2 separate regions of the Homo sapiens genome follow, and region 2 is linked to region 1. A link means that fine-mapping ties the variant in region 1 to the expression of a gene that starts in the linked region. Tissue or cell type: whole blood. Region 1 holds a variant in brackets; the other region holds the start of a gene. All regions are shown on one strand. Distances are between the middles of the regions.

Region 1 (8,102 bases):
GGCGTGATCTCAGCTCACTGCAACCTCCGCCTCCCAAGTTCACGTGATTCTTGTGCCTCAGCCTCCCTAGAAGCTGGGACTACAGGTGCATGCCATGATGCCCAGCTAATTTTGTGTATTTTTAGTAGAGACAGGATTTCGCCATGTTGCCCAGGCTGGTCTTGAACTCCTGACCTCAAGTGATCAGCCCACCTTGGCCCTCCAAAGTCTTGGGATTACAGGCGTGAGCCACTTCACCCGGCCTAAAGTAGTTTTTAATTAGGATATTGTAATTGAAACTAATTATACTGCAGTGAATTAAAGTTTCCTTTATCCCCAAGCCTAATGGACACATTAACTCACCTCTTTACAGGGAGGCCAGATTTCTGCCATTGTGGGAAGGAGGCAGGAGGAGCCGGGGGCAGTGCTGGGGTGGGAGCTAGGCCAGGGCGAGGCTGGCTGTGGAAGGGCCCTTTGGGCAGCCGCAGGCCATACGTCCTCAGACCTGGGGCAGCCAGGACCACCAGGGAATGTTGCTGACAGGCAGCACCAGCGCCTGAATCCCCCGCCCCAGATGGACCTGGCTAGGGGGTGAGACCCCCCTGCCACCCCTCCATCCCAGAAGCCAGGCGGGGCTGAGGCTCTATGGGTCCCCACCACACTTATTTATTGGCACCTTCATCCTCCTGGTGCACTGTGGCAGTTCCAAGGCCCAGGCTGTCCAGGTGGCTTTTGAACTGTGGAGAGGCCCCTGGACGGCTGGAACCTTCTCCCTTGCTCGGGTGAATGTGGCTCCCCGTGGTGCACAAACACGTTCAAAGACGGAACAAAGGGACACGTGTTCATAGGAGGTGAGACAAAGCGTTGCCAGCCCTGGGGAACAGGAGTGGCCTGTTCCTACTCCTATCTGGTTGTGGTTCTCCTTCGACAAGTTAGGTGAAGGCACCTTGGTAGCAGGGTACCCTTCAGAATCCAGATACCTGATTCAGCTCAGCAGCCATTTGCTGAGCACTTAGCAGGCACCTAGCCAATGGTGCCAGCCACCAAGGGCCCAGCAGGGCAGGACCTCCCCCTCCCTCCTGGAGCCACGGCCCCCCAGCACCATGGCCTCTGGAGCCCCTCACCCTCCCTTGAGGTCAGCCCTATGGTGGCGATTGTAGAGCGAGTCAGGAGCGAGACAGGAGGCCACGTGTTGCCTGCCTGTGTGGGGCTCCCATCCAAAGGCAGGGCAGCGCGAGTCACATGCCCACCCCCTGCTGTGCAAAGGGGTCCTGTGGGGGGGTCATGGGCTCCCATCAGAGAATGGCATGGTGGTGGCCCTCTGAGGGAGTTCTCACCACGCTGCTGCTGTGAGCCAGGGATCACTGAACCCATTTTAAAGGTGAAAACACCGAGGCTCCGTAACTGCCAACTCCTCAAAACCCCCACAGTGAACACCCCACGTTGGGATGTTTCCTGGCCTGGCCTTTCCCCACACTCAGTGTTGCCCTGAGCTCCAAACGAGGTGAGATTGTGGCAGGAGGGCAGGGGTGGCAAGGCTGCTACCCCGATGGAGGCGGCCAGTTGGTGGGATGCCCGAACAGGGACCAGCATGGTGCAGGGCGCCCCGTGGGTGGGCAGGATGGGTCGCTGAAGGCTCGTGAAGCCCGGCAGGGGTCCCTGAAGAGTCTAGTGGCATCGGGGGAGAGTTTCTTGTACAGAGAGGGTGAGTATGCTTTGGGCCGGCTGGCTGGGGCTGAGACCAGGGGTGGATAGGAAGGCAGAGCCCGTCCAGCCTCCAGGCCAGCGTTGCTTCACAAGGACAATGCCCCCAGGGTGTTAGCATCCAAATATAGCTTGCCGGCTGTCATGCTTAATCCTGAGACTCGGACACATGTCACACCCATGTCCCCGTGAGGTGGGAACCCTGGGGCCTGGACAGGCCTGAGTGTGGTCTCAGCCCCATCACACACAGCTGGGCAGCTAGACCTGGGTGTCCCCACAGGGGTGCCAGGACACCTCCCAGGGGTTGTAGTGAGCCCTCAGCACCCGGCCCACAATGGGCACAGCTCAGCGATCTCCCAGCATTCCCTGATCCTCGGACCCTGGGACGCAATGCAACCCCTGCTCAGGCCCAGATGCAGCCAGCATAGGACAGTCTGTGACTTTGCCTGGGACACCCACTGCATTTTAAAACTGCACTTCATTTGGCAGCCCCAGGAGCCAGGGCGCTGCCCAGGCCTGTTCTCAGAGGAGGTATTATGCCCGTCCGCCCGCCTGCTGTGGCTGCTCTGTGGGGAGCCTGACTTGGCAGCTCCCAGGCTGTGTCTGGTGCCAGACCTGGCTGCACATGGAGCCAGGGATGGATTTAGAAACCTCTCGCTTCTCCCAGCATGGGCAGAGGCGCCCAGATTCCTCCCCGGCCTGGGGCCACCATAGCAGGAGAAGGGGAGGGAGGCAGAGGAAGCCAGGCCCAGGGAGGGCCAAGCAGCCCCCAGGCAGACCCCTGGACCGTTCCCCAGTCTGCACTGCCGCCTCAGGGACCTCCCCATCACCTCAGCAAGCGCCCTTTTCTGTAAGGAGGGGGTAAGAACACCTGCCCTCGGGTGATGTGAGAAGCACACTCACGCGGGGAAACAGGTCTTAGTATTTTCTTAGACTTTGTTTTGTTTTGTTTTAAGGCAGGGTCTCACTCTGCCGCCTAGATTGGAATGCAGTTGCATGATCTTAGCTCACTGCAGACTTGACTTCCTGGACTCAAGCAACCCTCTTGACTCAGCCTCCCAAGTAGCCAGGACTATAGGCACACACCACCACTCCTGGCTAACTTTTAAACTTTGTGTAGAGATGGGGGAGTCTCTCTGTGTTGCCCAGACTGGTCTGGAACTCCTGGGCTCAAGCGATCCTCCTGTTTTGGCCTCTCAAAGTGCTGGGGTTGCAGGCGTGAGCCACTGCACCCAGCCTCTTAGACTTTTGGACAGCAGAGGGGCCAGGCCTTTAAATGTCCTGGGGGTGTGATGTGCTGTCCGTGGGGATGGTGGGGTCACCTGCCCCAGCCTCAGTGGGTCCCTCTTTTACATGCCTGCAGCTCACCGGATGCTCCCGTGTGGCACTCAGCTATCATGAGGTGTGCATCCGTCCAGGTGGACCCCAGAGCCCCGCATGCAACCACGGGCCCCGCCTGGGCCTCAGCCTCCATCCCAGGAATGGGAGAACCAGCTTCACTTCAGGCCAGGAAAGAGGGAGACTGAAAGAGCAGATGACATGGGACAGGACAGAGCCTGAGGCCCAGACAGGCCATGAGCGAGGGGAGGTGAGAATAAGGCCACAGGTGGTCCCGTGTCTGCCTTCCCTGCTCAACGTGCAGAGAGGGCTGGCCATTTTCTCCGGCTTCATCAGCATGCTCTACAGTCACTGCGAGTGTTGCAGGAGGAATTGTGGCCTCCTCCACAGCAGCGAGAACACTGAGCCCCGTTTCATCTGTCTTCCTCCTGTTTCCTTGAACCCTCCCAAGATTCTTTCTTTGGTGCGTTATTCATGTTGTTCCTTTTCCTGCAAGAGAGAGGCCTTTGTCCTCCTTGTTCAGCAAGCACCTAGTCAGTGGTAAAGTGCAATATTTAGCTGGTAACAAAGGTGTGGAATGGAATTGGCTTCCATGATTTGGCGAAGTATTTGCAAGAAGCCTATGGTGAGGCTTCTTGTTTACAGATCCACGTGTCTTAGTGGAAACCTCAGAAACACATGCTCTCGTGGATGCTGTCATTCTTCTTTTTTTGTTTGTTTTGGTTTTTTGGGGGGGGGTTTTGTTTTTTGTTTGTTTGTTTGTTTTTTGAGATGGGGTCTCGCTCTTTCTCCCAGGCTGGAGTGCAGTGGTGCAACCTCAGCTCACTGCAACCTCCACCTCCCGAGTTCAAGCCATTCTCCTGCCTCAGCCTCCTGAGTAGATGGGACCACAGGCGTGCACCACCACGCCCAGCTAATTTTTGTATTTTTAGTAGAGACTGGGTTTCACCATGTTGGCCAGGCTGGTCTCAAACTCCTGACCTCAGGTGATCCACCCTCCTCAGCCTCCCACAGTGCTGGGATTGCAGGCGGGAACCACTGTGCCTGGCCAGATGCTGTAATTCTTTGGAAAGGGATGGAGTTGGCATTTCCCCTTATGCTGTTGGGAAAATGGCTTTGCTAAGATGTCAGAAGTCCCTGTTAATACAACTTAAATAGATAAACCATAGTCAGAGCCTGGGGAAAATTCCTGTTTAACATATTCATTTGCATGCAGTGATGACACTTATTTCAAAGCATTCCTGTCTCAGCAATGCAGTAGGTCAAATGTGTAGGCATCCCTGGGCTGGCACAGGTACATAGGACTTCTAATGCTTGGCCTTTTCCCTAGTTTGATTGTACTCTCTGACCAGCCTGATTTAGGAAGGGTTTGATAGTACAATATCCGTCTTTCCCTCACGCGTGCTGCCAGTCCCAGGGGGATGGGAGCAGCCACTCACCCGTAGGAGTTCCAGGTGTGCACAGCTGGCTCAGAGCCTGCTGGCCCAGCACACATTTCCCAGGCCAGCACAGTGTGCTGAAGTGCTTTTCATCAAACAGTTAACAAGACTTCCTTATACATTTCCCCAGTGTCAAGAAAAACAAAAGGTGCCCAGTTCTCTGCTGCCTCCAGCAGTGCTGGGCAGAAGTGAGACAGGAAGCCAGGCTCCCGAGCTCACACACGCAGACGTAGGTGGGAAGCTACACTGCGTGGGCTTTCACATCCCCAGGGCCCGGGCTGAGGCCTCTTAAAGACAAGCTGGCCCTGTGCTTGCTCCAC[A/G]CCTGACGCACGCCAGGCCAGGCCACAGCGTGGCTCTCTGTCAACAGAGGAAGTGGCGCAGTAAGTGGCCAGCCCCTCCCTGCTTTGGAAAGGTCCCGCTATTCACAGAATCCTGGGTGTGAGCCCTGACACCAAAGGCAGAAACCACAAGGGAGAAGCCAGCCCTGGCTGCCTAAATGCGAAATAAGCCTGTTGCTGGCTGCCACGAAAATGCCACTGTGTTCCAGTCCTAAATGGGGTGCATGCTATTGGTTTGAGACAGTGATTTTTTTTTTTTCTTTGAGACTGGGTCACACTCTGTCACCCATGCTGGAGTGCAGTGGCATGATCTCCGCTCGCTGCAACCTCCGCCTCCCGGGTTCAAGCAATTCTCCTGCCTCAGCCTCCTGAGTAGCTGGGACTACAGGCACACGCTGCCACACCCAGCTAATTTTTTGTATTTTAGTAGAGATGGGGTTTCACCGTGTTGCCCAGGCTGGTCGCGAACTCCTGACCTCAGGTGACCCGCCCGCCTCGGCCTCCCAAAGTGCTGAGATTACAGGCGTGAGCCACTGCACCTGGCCGAGAGAGAGATTTTTATCACATGAAGAAAATAGCTTCTTTCTGTGTTTTCAAGGTTGTGGCTTTTTTAAAATCAGAAAAGAATATTGAGTTTTCTCAAATGCCTTCTCAATGCGTATTAAAATGACGGTACATTTTTTTCCCATGGTGTATTAAAGTGTGATTTTGTAGTAACAGGTTTAAAGCATTCCTGAAATTAGCCCTCCTTTAAATAAAATATGCTATGTGGCTAGATGAAGTTTGTTAGCATTGGGTAGGGGACTTGAGTGTCTATTTATAGGTGGAAGCGAAGGGCATCTGTTCCGTCCGTGTGCGCATGCGTTGAGACGCATGTCATGCCATCTCAAGAGGCTTGGGATCAGGGTTTGTTAACTTTTTTAAATGAACTGGGAAGCTGCACATCTTTTTCTTTCACTTTAAGAATTTGCAGTGGCTCACGCCTCCCACACCTGTAATCCCAGCACTTTGGAAGGCCGAGGTGGGAGGATCGCTTGAGCCCAGGAGTTTGAGACCAGCCTGAGCAACATAGTGAGAACCTGTCTCAATTAAAAAGAAAAAAAAAGAATTTGAAAGAACTGCCTGGGATCTAGTGCCTTTTGAAACAGCAATTCTTTAATAACATTTGCCATTTTTCTTCTTGGAATTCCTCCTTTTTAAGTCGATATTTGATAGTTTATAATTTAACCAAAAAGTATCCCAATTCACTGAGGATTTTCCAATTTTTAACAAACCTTTTTTACGTATTAATCTCTTATACTTCTTCTTTTTCTTTTCTGTTTTTTGTTTTTTGTTTATTTGTTTGTTTGTTTAGGACAGTGTCTGGCTCTGTCGCCCAGGCTGGAGTGCAGTGGCACGATCTCGACTCACTGCAACCTCTGCCTCCTGGGTTCACGGCATTCTCGTGCCTCAGCCACTCAAGTTAACTGGGACTACAGGTGTGTGCCACCATGCCTGGCTAATTTTGATATTTTCAGCAGAGATGGGGTTTCGCCATGCTGCCCCGGCTGGTCTTGAACTCCTGAGCTCAAGTGATCTGCCCACCTCGGCCTCCCAAAGTGGTGGTATTACAGGCGTGAGCCACCGCACCTGGCCTATATTGCTTCTAATAATTATTGATGGACAAATTATGTGCCATTTGGAGAGATTTATTTTGTTCTTTTTAAAAAATATCTTGCTTTGGATACTTATTTTGTTTATTTTCATTTATTTTTGTTTAATAAAATAATTTATAACTATTAATTTTTCTCAGAATTCACTTTTGCCCCATTCCATTCATTTGTACATATAGTATTGCCGATCTTGTTCTCTTAATATTTTGTAATTGAATTTTTAAATTCTCCTGTGACTTCGAAATTATATAAATGATCTTTCATTTCTAGGAATTCCATTTTTTTAAATTTATCCTTTTTTTAAAACTAATTTTTAGTTTTCAGTATTGTAGCCTGAGAATATTGACTTATGATTTATACTCTGGGGATTTGATGAGTCTCTTTTTGCCGCCTAACACAGACCCAGGGGCCTTTGAAAAGCCGGCTGAGTCTCTGTAGAATAGAACCTTTATCAGACAGTCACTGCATCGGTTTATTAACATTATTTTTCATAATCACTTTATGCTACTGTTTATCTACCTAGCCTTGGGAGGTGTGTTTAAGTCTCCCACGTGTCTTGCGTTCCTGGCAGCTGCGGGCTGTCTGTACGCTGTGGCGCAGTGCCAGCTGTCCTGGGTGGAGCATCCCCATCAGCCCCACTGATGGCCCTTCTCACCGGCCTGGGCCAGGTCTGCTGGGAAGCCCACACCCCTGCTCACCTTCTGTCTGCGTCTCCTGGGTACATCCCTCTCTCGCTGTCTTCCTTCAGGCTTTGTTTCACTTTGCCTTGGAGGTGGCCACTGTGACCAGAGTAAGGGGGATTTTTGCTCTTACCCTCCCTGCCCCGGTGGTGTCTGCAGTCTGGTTGTTGAGACCAACAGTGGGTGAATAATCACATGAGTTCATGGACAGCCACAAAGTAACACCCATCTATGAAGGAAAACCCCACTTTGCTGGGGAAGCCAAATATGATTGAAGCATCCAGAAAAGGCCTCTTTGAGGACGTGACATTTAAGCGAAGGGCGAGCATAGGGTGGCCTTGTGAAGATGAGGCTAAGAGCTTTCCAGTTAAAAGGAACAGCATGTGCAAAGGTCCTGAGGCAGAACACTGGCCACTGTGGCTAGAATGTGGCCAGCAGGAGGGAGGGGACCCAGTTGAGTGACCCACACAGAAGCTTCTGAATCTGGGACAGGTGTAATGGTGAGCACTGAAGGCGTGAAGCAGGGGTGGGAAGGTGTGGACGGTGGGCTTGGGCAGCGGCCAGGGTGTGGGATGTGGCCTGGAGAGCCCGTGGTAGCTAAGCCCAGCATGCAGAGTGGAGGGCGGTGGAGGGGTTTGATGGCTGCCCCTGACTAAACTGGGGGAGGCAGAAGAAGGGGTAGATAGATGCCAAGCCCCCACATACTCACTACAGAAAAGTGGAAGCTGGTATGTAAGTTGTAATAACCCATCCACCAGGACGAGTCACTTCTGCCCCATCCTGGGCACAGTGATGGGGCCTCAGGAGGGGAGGGCACCCTTGAGGGAAAGGGGAGCCATGATAACTCAGGGGATAGGCATGGCATGGGGGCCCTGAGTCACATGTGTTCACAGCCAGAAGTGAACAGCCCAGGCTTCAGGTGGAGGAGGGAGAATGGGGAACTCTCAGGTGCAGCCCAAGGCCGAGAGAGAA
Region 2 (8,102 bases), 70 kb after region 1:
ACTCCTGACCTCGTGATCCCAAAGTGCTGAGATTACAGGCATGAGCCACCGTGCCCAGCCTTCTTTGACATATTTTGAAATGGCCTTGCAAAGCTGTCTCTTGTGGGGAAAATCTACGTTCTGTAGATTTCCCTTTCCAGATCTTTTTCTGATCCAGGAGAGATTAACCAAGAGTCTGGCATCTTTTTAGGTCTGATAAGAAATACTTACCATCTATTTCTCTGAAGCCTGCTACCAGGAGGCTTCATCTACATAAGAACATTTGTCTATACAACACCTTATCTTATCCCAGACACTCCTTTCTATTCATTCCAGTTCGTTAGACAATAACTATTTCAACCAAATTGCCAATCAGAAAATCTTTGAATCTACCTATGATCCAGAAGCTCCTGCCTACCCTTCCCTGCTTCCAGTTATCCTGCCTTTCCAGACTGAACTAATGTACATGTATTGATTGGTGTCTGCCTGTAACTTCTGTCCCCCTGTTACCAAAAAGGGGTCCTGATCCAGACCCCAAGAGAGGGTTATTGGATCTCAAACAAGAAAGAATTCAAGAGGAATCCATTAGAGTAAAGTGAAGCAAGTATATTAGAGAAGTAAGGAAATAAAAGAATGGCTACTACGTAGGCAGAGCAGCCCCAAGGGCTGCTGGTTGGCCACTTTTATGGTCATTTCCTGATTATATGCTAAACAAGGGGTTGATTATTCGTGAGTTTTCCAGGAAAAGGCTGGGCAATTCCTGGAACTGAGGGGTCCTCCCATTTTTAGATCACATAGGATAACTTGCTGTCTTTGCCATGACATTTGTAAACTGTCATGGCACTGGTGAGAGTGTCTTTTAGCAACAGATACATTATAACTAGTGCGTAATGAACAGTGAGGATGAACAGAGAACACTTTCGTCGCTATCTTGGTTTTGGCCGGCTTCTTAATGGCATCCTTTTAACGGCAAGCTCTTTGTGACCTGTACCTGTGCCAACCTTCTATGTCATCCTGTGACTTAGAATGCCTAACCTCCTGGGAATGTAGCCCAGTAGGTCTTAGCCTCAAGATGGAGTTGCTCTGGTTCAAACGCCTCTGACACCCCTAAAATTTATAAAAATCGAGCTGTAATCCAACCACCTTGGCACATGTTCTCAGGACCTCTTGAGGCTGTGACTCAGGCCTTCGTCACTCATATTTGGCTCTGAATAAAATCTCTTCAAATATTTTACAGTTTGACCTTTTTTGCCAACAGACTACTTAACTTCTGTGTCAGTTTCCTCATCTATAAAATGGGGATAATACCTGTTTCATGGGGTTATTGTTTGGATTAATTGAGTTAATAAACTAGGAAGTCCTAAATAAGTCTTAGTGAAAGAATTAGGCAGCCTCATGAAATGGAGCTAGAAATGACTTCATTCATCCACAGCGGTGGAATTTGGGCCTACGTGGGCCAATGTGTGGTGCAATCCATTCTGCAGACAGTGACGCTTATGAGTAAGACAAGTGCTCACGCCATTCCGGCTGCACCTTCACACACTGCAATCTTCAAGCCCTTATCTCCTCTCACCAGGACTCATGCCGCCAGCGCATGCAATCTCTATCCAGCAGATGTGTTTTAATCACCTGCATGTTCCAGGATGGGAAAGGGGGTGGCAGGAGGTGACGCTGGAGGAAGAAGGAAGAGGAGGGCTGAGGAGCTGAGCTTAGTCAGGGAAACAGGCCATGACAATAAGGAAGAGGGAAGTGCAGGGCTCCAAGGAAGACACAGAGGGCACCTGCACTGCCCCACCCCACCCCCAGGCTTTGAGGCCTATCAGAAGTTGGTGTCTTAGCTTAGGAAAACTTGAGAGTTAGCCGGGCAAAAAAGGGAGAGACATGGTCCCAAACACAAGAAATAACACAAGTTGTGTTCTTTCTTTTTTCTTTTTTTTCTGGAAACAGTCTTGCTGTGTCACCCAGACTGGAGTGCAGTGTCAGCTCACTGCAACCTCCGCCTCCTGGGTTCAAGCAATTCTCCTGCCTCAGCGTTCCAAATAGCTGGGATTACAAGGGCGCACCACCACGCCCGGCTTTTTTGTATTTTTAGTAGAGATGGGGTTTTGCCATGTTGGCCAGGCTGGTCTTGAACTCCTGACCTCAGGTGATCTGTCTGCCTCGGCCTCCCAAAGTGCTGGGATTACAGGCCTGAGCCACTGCGCCCGGCTGAGTTGTGTTCTTGACCAGTTTTCCTGACTCCATTCCCACCGACTCACTTAGAGCCAAAGCCTTTATTATTATTATGGGGACAGGGTCTGCCCTGTCACCCAAGCTGGAGTGCAGTGGTGCGATCACGGCTCACTGCAGCCTCAACCTCCTGGGCTCAGGTGATCCTCCCATCCCAGCCTCCTGAGTAGCTGGGACTACAGGCGCGCGCCACCACGCGGCTAATTTTTTTTTTCTTTTTTTGTAGCGATGGGGTCTTGCCACCATCAGGAGGCTGGTCTTAAACTCTTGGGCTCATGGGATCCTCCCACTTTGGCCTCCCAAAGTGCTAGGATTACAGGCGTGAGCCACCGGGCCCGCCAGCCTCCTTTAGGAAGAAAACCTGATAGTCACTCCACTGTTAGAAACCTCTCAGTGGGGTTTTTCGAAATGAAAGTCTAACTCCTTGTCTCTTTCTGACCGTTTCCATGCTGAACCTCATCTTTCTAATGGCCCACTCCTCCAGGGGCCTGCCTGACGCCCAGGACGGCCCCTCGTCAATCACACAGGACGCTAATGGGCGCGGGATGAATCTGGGCGCCCAAAAGAGGACAAGTTGAAATGGATTTTTAAGGTACTTTAAACACATTTAAGAGAGAAAAGAAGGAATAAAAGGGACATGACAAGAACAGTGGGGCCTGTGGGCGCAGCACACGGTTTGGGGTTGGTCGTGGCTTGCGTGTCTGACCGCCCGGTCTCCCTCACCGCCTGCACTGCAGGCTGCGGGGGCCTGTCCAGTCCTTTGCACTCCAGGTGCGGCGCTGGACAGCGGGAGCTCCAGCCACGGAGGCCGCTCCTTCAGGGAAGGATAGCCCGGGCTCCTCCGTGCCCCTAAACCCTGCAGACCACGAAGTGAACCCGTGTTGGAACCAGGTGCAAAACCCCCAGCCCTCCGGCGCTCGGGCTCCAGAGCCAACTCGGAATCCCCGCCCCTAACGCTACTCGCCAATCAGCGGCGGTTGCGAAATCCGTGCCCGCCCCCTGGCCGCGCCCTCTGCCAATGAGCGAGGTCCGAGAGGCCCGTCGCCCAGCCCAGTCCCGATCGGCGCACGCCGCTGTTCGCGTGTCTGGTTCCAAATAAAGTTTTTCGCGACTTTGAATTTTTTTTTTAAAGCGCCCGCTGCTGTCTCGGCTGCCGCGGGCGAGAGCGGCCGAGTCCCCGCCCCGCCACTTCCGGTCCCGCCGCCGGGAGCCGGTGCGGCTGTGAGGGGCCGCGTCTCGCAGCAGCCGCCCGGACCGGGCATGGTGTTGGGCGCCGGGCCCGCCTCGCCTGTCTCGGGGAGCCCAGGTGAGGAGCGACCGTGCGGCTCTGCGGCGGGGCGAGGTGCGGCCGCCGGTGCACGGGCTGGCCTGCGGGCCGGGCGGAGGGCGCGGGCGGTGGCGGGGCCGCCTCGGGCCCGCCGGGTTCCTCACGCCGGGGGCCTGGCGGGCGCGGGCACCCGGACGCGAGGCCGAGCGGCGTGAATGGGAAGGGGCCGCGGGCCGCGGGCCGCGAGCCGGGGGTCGGAGGCGGCGTCGGCGGCCGGGGCGCTGGCCTCGCCCGGCAGTGAGTGACCGCGGCGGCGGCGGCGGGGGACGGCCCGCGCCGAGCACCTGGTGTGAACCAGGCCCTGGGCCGAGCGTGGCACAGACCTGGCCGCGCTCACGCCCCACTCGCGGGATCGGCTGCCTGCCTTGTACGGAGGAAGCGGGGCGTCCAGCGCCTGGCCAAGGTCACCGGCCCGACGTGGCCGCAGAAACCGGGACTGGACTCCCGATCGGGGCAGGAGTCGCGCTAGGCCGTGAGGAGCGGGGGAGGTGAGGGGAGTGACAACTCGCGCCCGGTCCTCGTACCTGCAGCGGGAAGAGTAAGTATGGACGCTTACCTACAACTGGGGGCGGCCAGGCTAGTTTGGAAAATTTTTACCACAGCAAAGGAGACGAGGAAGGAAGGGCATCTTGGAACAATTAGTGCAGCAGAGTCTTGGTTCCAGACCTAGTTCTGCTGGTGTGTCATCTTGGGTGTGGCCTTCCCCTCCCTGGGCTCAGTTTCCTCATCTGTCACAGGAGAGAATTGGGTCCCCCCACTCTGCATTCCCGACCGCCTGGAAGTGGGGGCAGGATGGGTTGGAATAGCCAGAGAAAGCTTCTTGGAGGAGGAGATGTTGGGATGTAGGTAGGAATCTTCCCCTTAAGGAAGGGGTAGGATTCGTTTGTGAAGGGAAGGAGGGCATTCTAGACCTGGGTATCAGACTGAATAGAAGCTTCTGGAAATGAACAGGGTGTTGTGAAGGAACAAAGAGGAAACTGGCCTGCCTGGTGCAGAGGAATCCTGGCTGAGGAGTGAGATGAAGGCAAGGGGGAGCATAGAGGTGGGAGAGAGAGAGAGATTGAGAGACAGAATCACACCAAGCTTAGTGCTGTGGGGCTTGAGGACCCCCCACCTGGACATACCTGCCTTTCAGGTAGTAGGCAGTGCAGGAAGGGGCAGGTTTACTGCTGAACGTAAAAGGGGCTGGGCTCCAAAGATGGTCGGTCAACCAGCGTACTCCTGTGCCGAGCAGGAGGTTCCTGGGCACTGGCATTCTGTAGAAGAGTGGGATGTGGACTTTGTTGTGCCCTGATCGGGGCCCCTTTGGCTGGGGAAGTTGAGTGTCCCCTAGTGACCCGCAGTCCCATCCTTTATGCTTGGATTGAGACGTCTCCATTCGGAAGGAATTGTAAATAAGTAGCCCCCTCACCTTGAGCTGACTGGCCCCTGGTGTCCCTGCACAAGTGACATGGCCTGGTTTTGCCATTGCTTGCAGGGATGCTGAGTAAATATCACTTGATGGCACTAGTAAGTTGCACACCAGATGCTCTTCTCCGGGCTGTCTGAAAGCAGGTCCCACCCAGAGGAGGAACCTAACTGGGCCAATTACAACTTGTGGAATTTAGAAACTGAGAATGCTGTTCAGAACAGCTGATCTGTTACCGAAATGCTGCCTTAGAGCGTAATTTGCAGGAAAGAGGAAGTTTTGTTTTAAACCAGATCTTCAAGAGTTGAAGCATATTGAAGAAGGAAAAGAATTCTGAAGCAACTGCAGGTATTCAGCTAGCCTCTTGACAGTTTGAAGACTTACTTTTTGATAGAATCCTTTGGTTTAAATTTAATTTTACAGCTATGGCAACATTCCCAAATTAGGCCTTGGGTTTATTCTTAAAGTGGCGTGTGAAAATGATACACACGATAGAAAAATAGATGGTCACTATATTAGATTTCTTAGAATGTTAGAGAAGTACATTTTTTATTACTTTCTATGGAAAACAAAGCACCAGTGTTACATTCTTTTATATCTTGCAAGTCACAGACTTGAAGATAGTAAACCAGCAATCTGACTCTTCAGTGGAATTGAATGTTGGAGCGTCTTCTGCCCACAGAGAAGACTTCATCGTGGCGTGATTGGGGGTATAAAAGCGTTAAGCGTAGCCTGCGGGCTGTAGTGGTGCAGAAGAGTTTCTTGGTGGTTGGCCTTTGAGTGCATGAAGGATCTCTCTCCCCAGGCTTCCCTGAGCCTCCTTCAGGGAGCTGCATGTGGCCCTGGTGCTTGCTGTTCTGTGGGACTCTTCATTCTGACTTTCCTAGGTTACTGCCTGCTGAACTCATGTTCAAGCAGTTGTGCTTTTATTTTTCACTCTTTGCTTCATTTGCATTCCCAAGGTCAGCCAGAGACCTGGTAGTCCTTGTGTAGGGCATCTGGTGCGTCCAGCTGACCCCCAGGTGATGGATGGATGCACGTCTTGGTCCATTATTGGGTGACTCTGACGATGTGGCAGGACTGATGTGCTCGAGTCTGCACACGGGGCAGCAGACTTGGCTGGGAAGGGAGACACTGTTCCATGACAAGGAATCCTTGTGAGGGATTTTTGACAAGATCATTCCAGGTAGGGGCTGAAGCAGGAGAGCTTGGCTCTAGATGGTGCTGCTGTCTGTGGTAGCTAAAGCCCCTACAGGTGTTTGTGACTATTTGCCTGTGAAGTAACTTCATCAGCTGAACCCAGCTGCTTTGCTCTGGGCGAAGCTGTGAAGATGTGCTCTTATGGAGGGCCACCTGAGGAGATGGCACAGTAGCGTAACAATGAAGAAACTAATGTTGGTTTATTTTCACATTTTTGTCAACTTTATTGAGGCGTAATTGAAATACACTAAATTGCCCATATTTAAATTGTGTAATTGATCAGTCTGAAACCATGACCACACTCGAGATAAAAACATTTCCTGCCCGGCATGGTGGCTCACGTCTGTAGTCCCAGCACTTTGGGAGGCTGAGGCAGGTGGATTGCTTCCGCTCAGGAATTCAAGACCAGCCCGGGTAACATGGTGAAACCCTGTCTCTACAAAAAAAATTAAAATTAGCTGGACATGATGGTGCCTGCCTGTAGTCCTAGCTGCTTTAGGAGGTGGAGGGTGCTGAGGTGGGAGGATCTCTTGAACCTGGGAGTTTGAGCCTGCACTGAGCTCAAGTCACGCCACTGCACTCCAGCCTGGGCTACAGAGCAAGACCTGTCTCAAAAAACAAACAAAAAACATTTTTGTCATCCACAAGAGGGAAACTAGTGTGTCTGTGGTGACAGCTTCTAGCAGCTGAGTGGCTTTGGGCAGCCTACCTTCTGGGCCTCTGTTGTCCTGGGGTCCACATGTTAAAATGGAATGGGAGTGAGAGAAGTCCATTCCAACTTTGCAATTCTGAGAGCTTATGACCGTGAAAGTGCAGAGCTGTCTTTGAAACCTTTAGACCAGTGCTTCTTAAGGGGTTTAGGGTATGTGTATGTCCGTGTCCTCTAGTGGAAAAGACTGTGCAGTTCAGAAGATCGTATTCTATGTATTGTTTTCGTTTTGAAAAAATTCTTTAAATTTTTTTATCTTTTGAGATGCGGTTTCACTCTTGTTGCCCAGGCTGGAGTGCAATGGCACAATCACTGCAACCTCCACCTCCCGGGTTCAACCTATTCTTCTGCCTCAGCCTCCTGAGTAGCTGGGATTTACAGGCACCCGCCACCATGCCGAGCTAATTTTTTTTGGTATTTTTAGTGGAGATGGGGTTTTGCCATGTTGGGCAGGCTGGTCTAGAACTCCTGACCTCAGGTGACCCACCTGCCTCGGCCTACCGAAGTGCTGGGATTATAGGCATGAGCCACCATGCCTGGCCTGTACTGTTTTCATGGTACAAACAATAGAAAATAAAATCTGACAGCATTTAGGGGATATGCAGAAGATGGTGTGAGAAACTGTGTAAGAGACCTGGGTGAAAAATGGTTTCAAATGCCAATGAGGAACGGAGTATTCTTATTTGACTTTCAGGATCTTAGCCTCAACCTAAAATTTCTGTGCTTAGGTCAAGCTTTTCACATGGAATTTTTAGATCATTTTCTGTTGAAACGATCAGAGTGGTATTGAAATAAAATGATACGAAAGCAACAAAGGAAATTATGGAAATATTGAACTGGTGACAATTTATTTTGTTTTATTTTATTTTATTTTTTTGAGTCTCACTCTGTTGCCAGGCTGGAGTGCAGTGGTGCAATCTTAGCTCACTGCAACCTCTGCCTCCCGGCTTCAAGTGATTCTCCTGCCTCAGCCTCCCAAGTAGCTGGGACTACAGGTGTGGGCCACCACGCCCGGCTAATTTTTTTGTATTTTAGTAGAGACGGGGTTTCACCATGTTGGCCAGGGTGGTCTCGGTCTCCTGGCCTCATAATCCACCTGTCTCGTTCCCCTAAAGTGTTGGGATTACAGGCATGAGCCACGGCACCTGGCCCTGGTGACAAATATTTGTCCTCAGTCAAAAGAAGTTCCAGTGACCCTCTCTGACCATGGCAAGGAGGACGATTAATGTCAGTTTATGTTAGAAACAGAA

What was found. PIP is the estimated chance that this variant, and not a neighbour inherited with it, causes the effect.
Region 2: it holds the start of UBE2F, and the variant in region 1 is fine-mapped to the expression of UBE2F in whole blood (TOPMed, PIP 0.96).

The regions. Positions count from the first base shown.
Region 1 is chr2:237,894,028-237,902,129 of GRCh38, forward strand. The region is part of intron 2 of RAMP1 (receptor activity modifying protein 1); the gene reads left to right. Among named protein-coding and RNA genes, the nearest start is that of RAMP1, 38 kb to the left of the region's middle. RefSeq lists enhancers at 699-4,928, 966-1,844, 4,896-4,945, 5,026-5,135. The variant A/G (reference allele first, on the strand shown) is at 4,781.
Region 2 is chr2:237,963,619-237,971,720 of GRCh38, forward strand. It overlaps UBE2F (ubiquitin conjugating enzyme E2 F (putative)), which reads left to right and starts at 3,396. Exons shown (of 10, transcript NM_080678.3): 1 at 3,396-3,514. It overlaps UBE2F-SCLY (UBE2F-SCLY readthrough (NMD candidate)), which reads left to right and starts at 3,327. Exons shown (of 19, transcript NR_037904.1): 1 at 3,327-3,514. RefSeq lists cis regulatory regions at 530-933, 1,260-1,923 and a silencer at 3,440-3,619.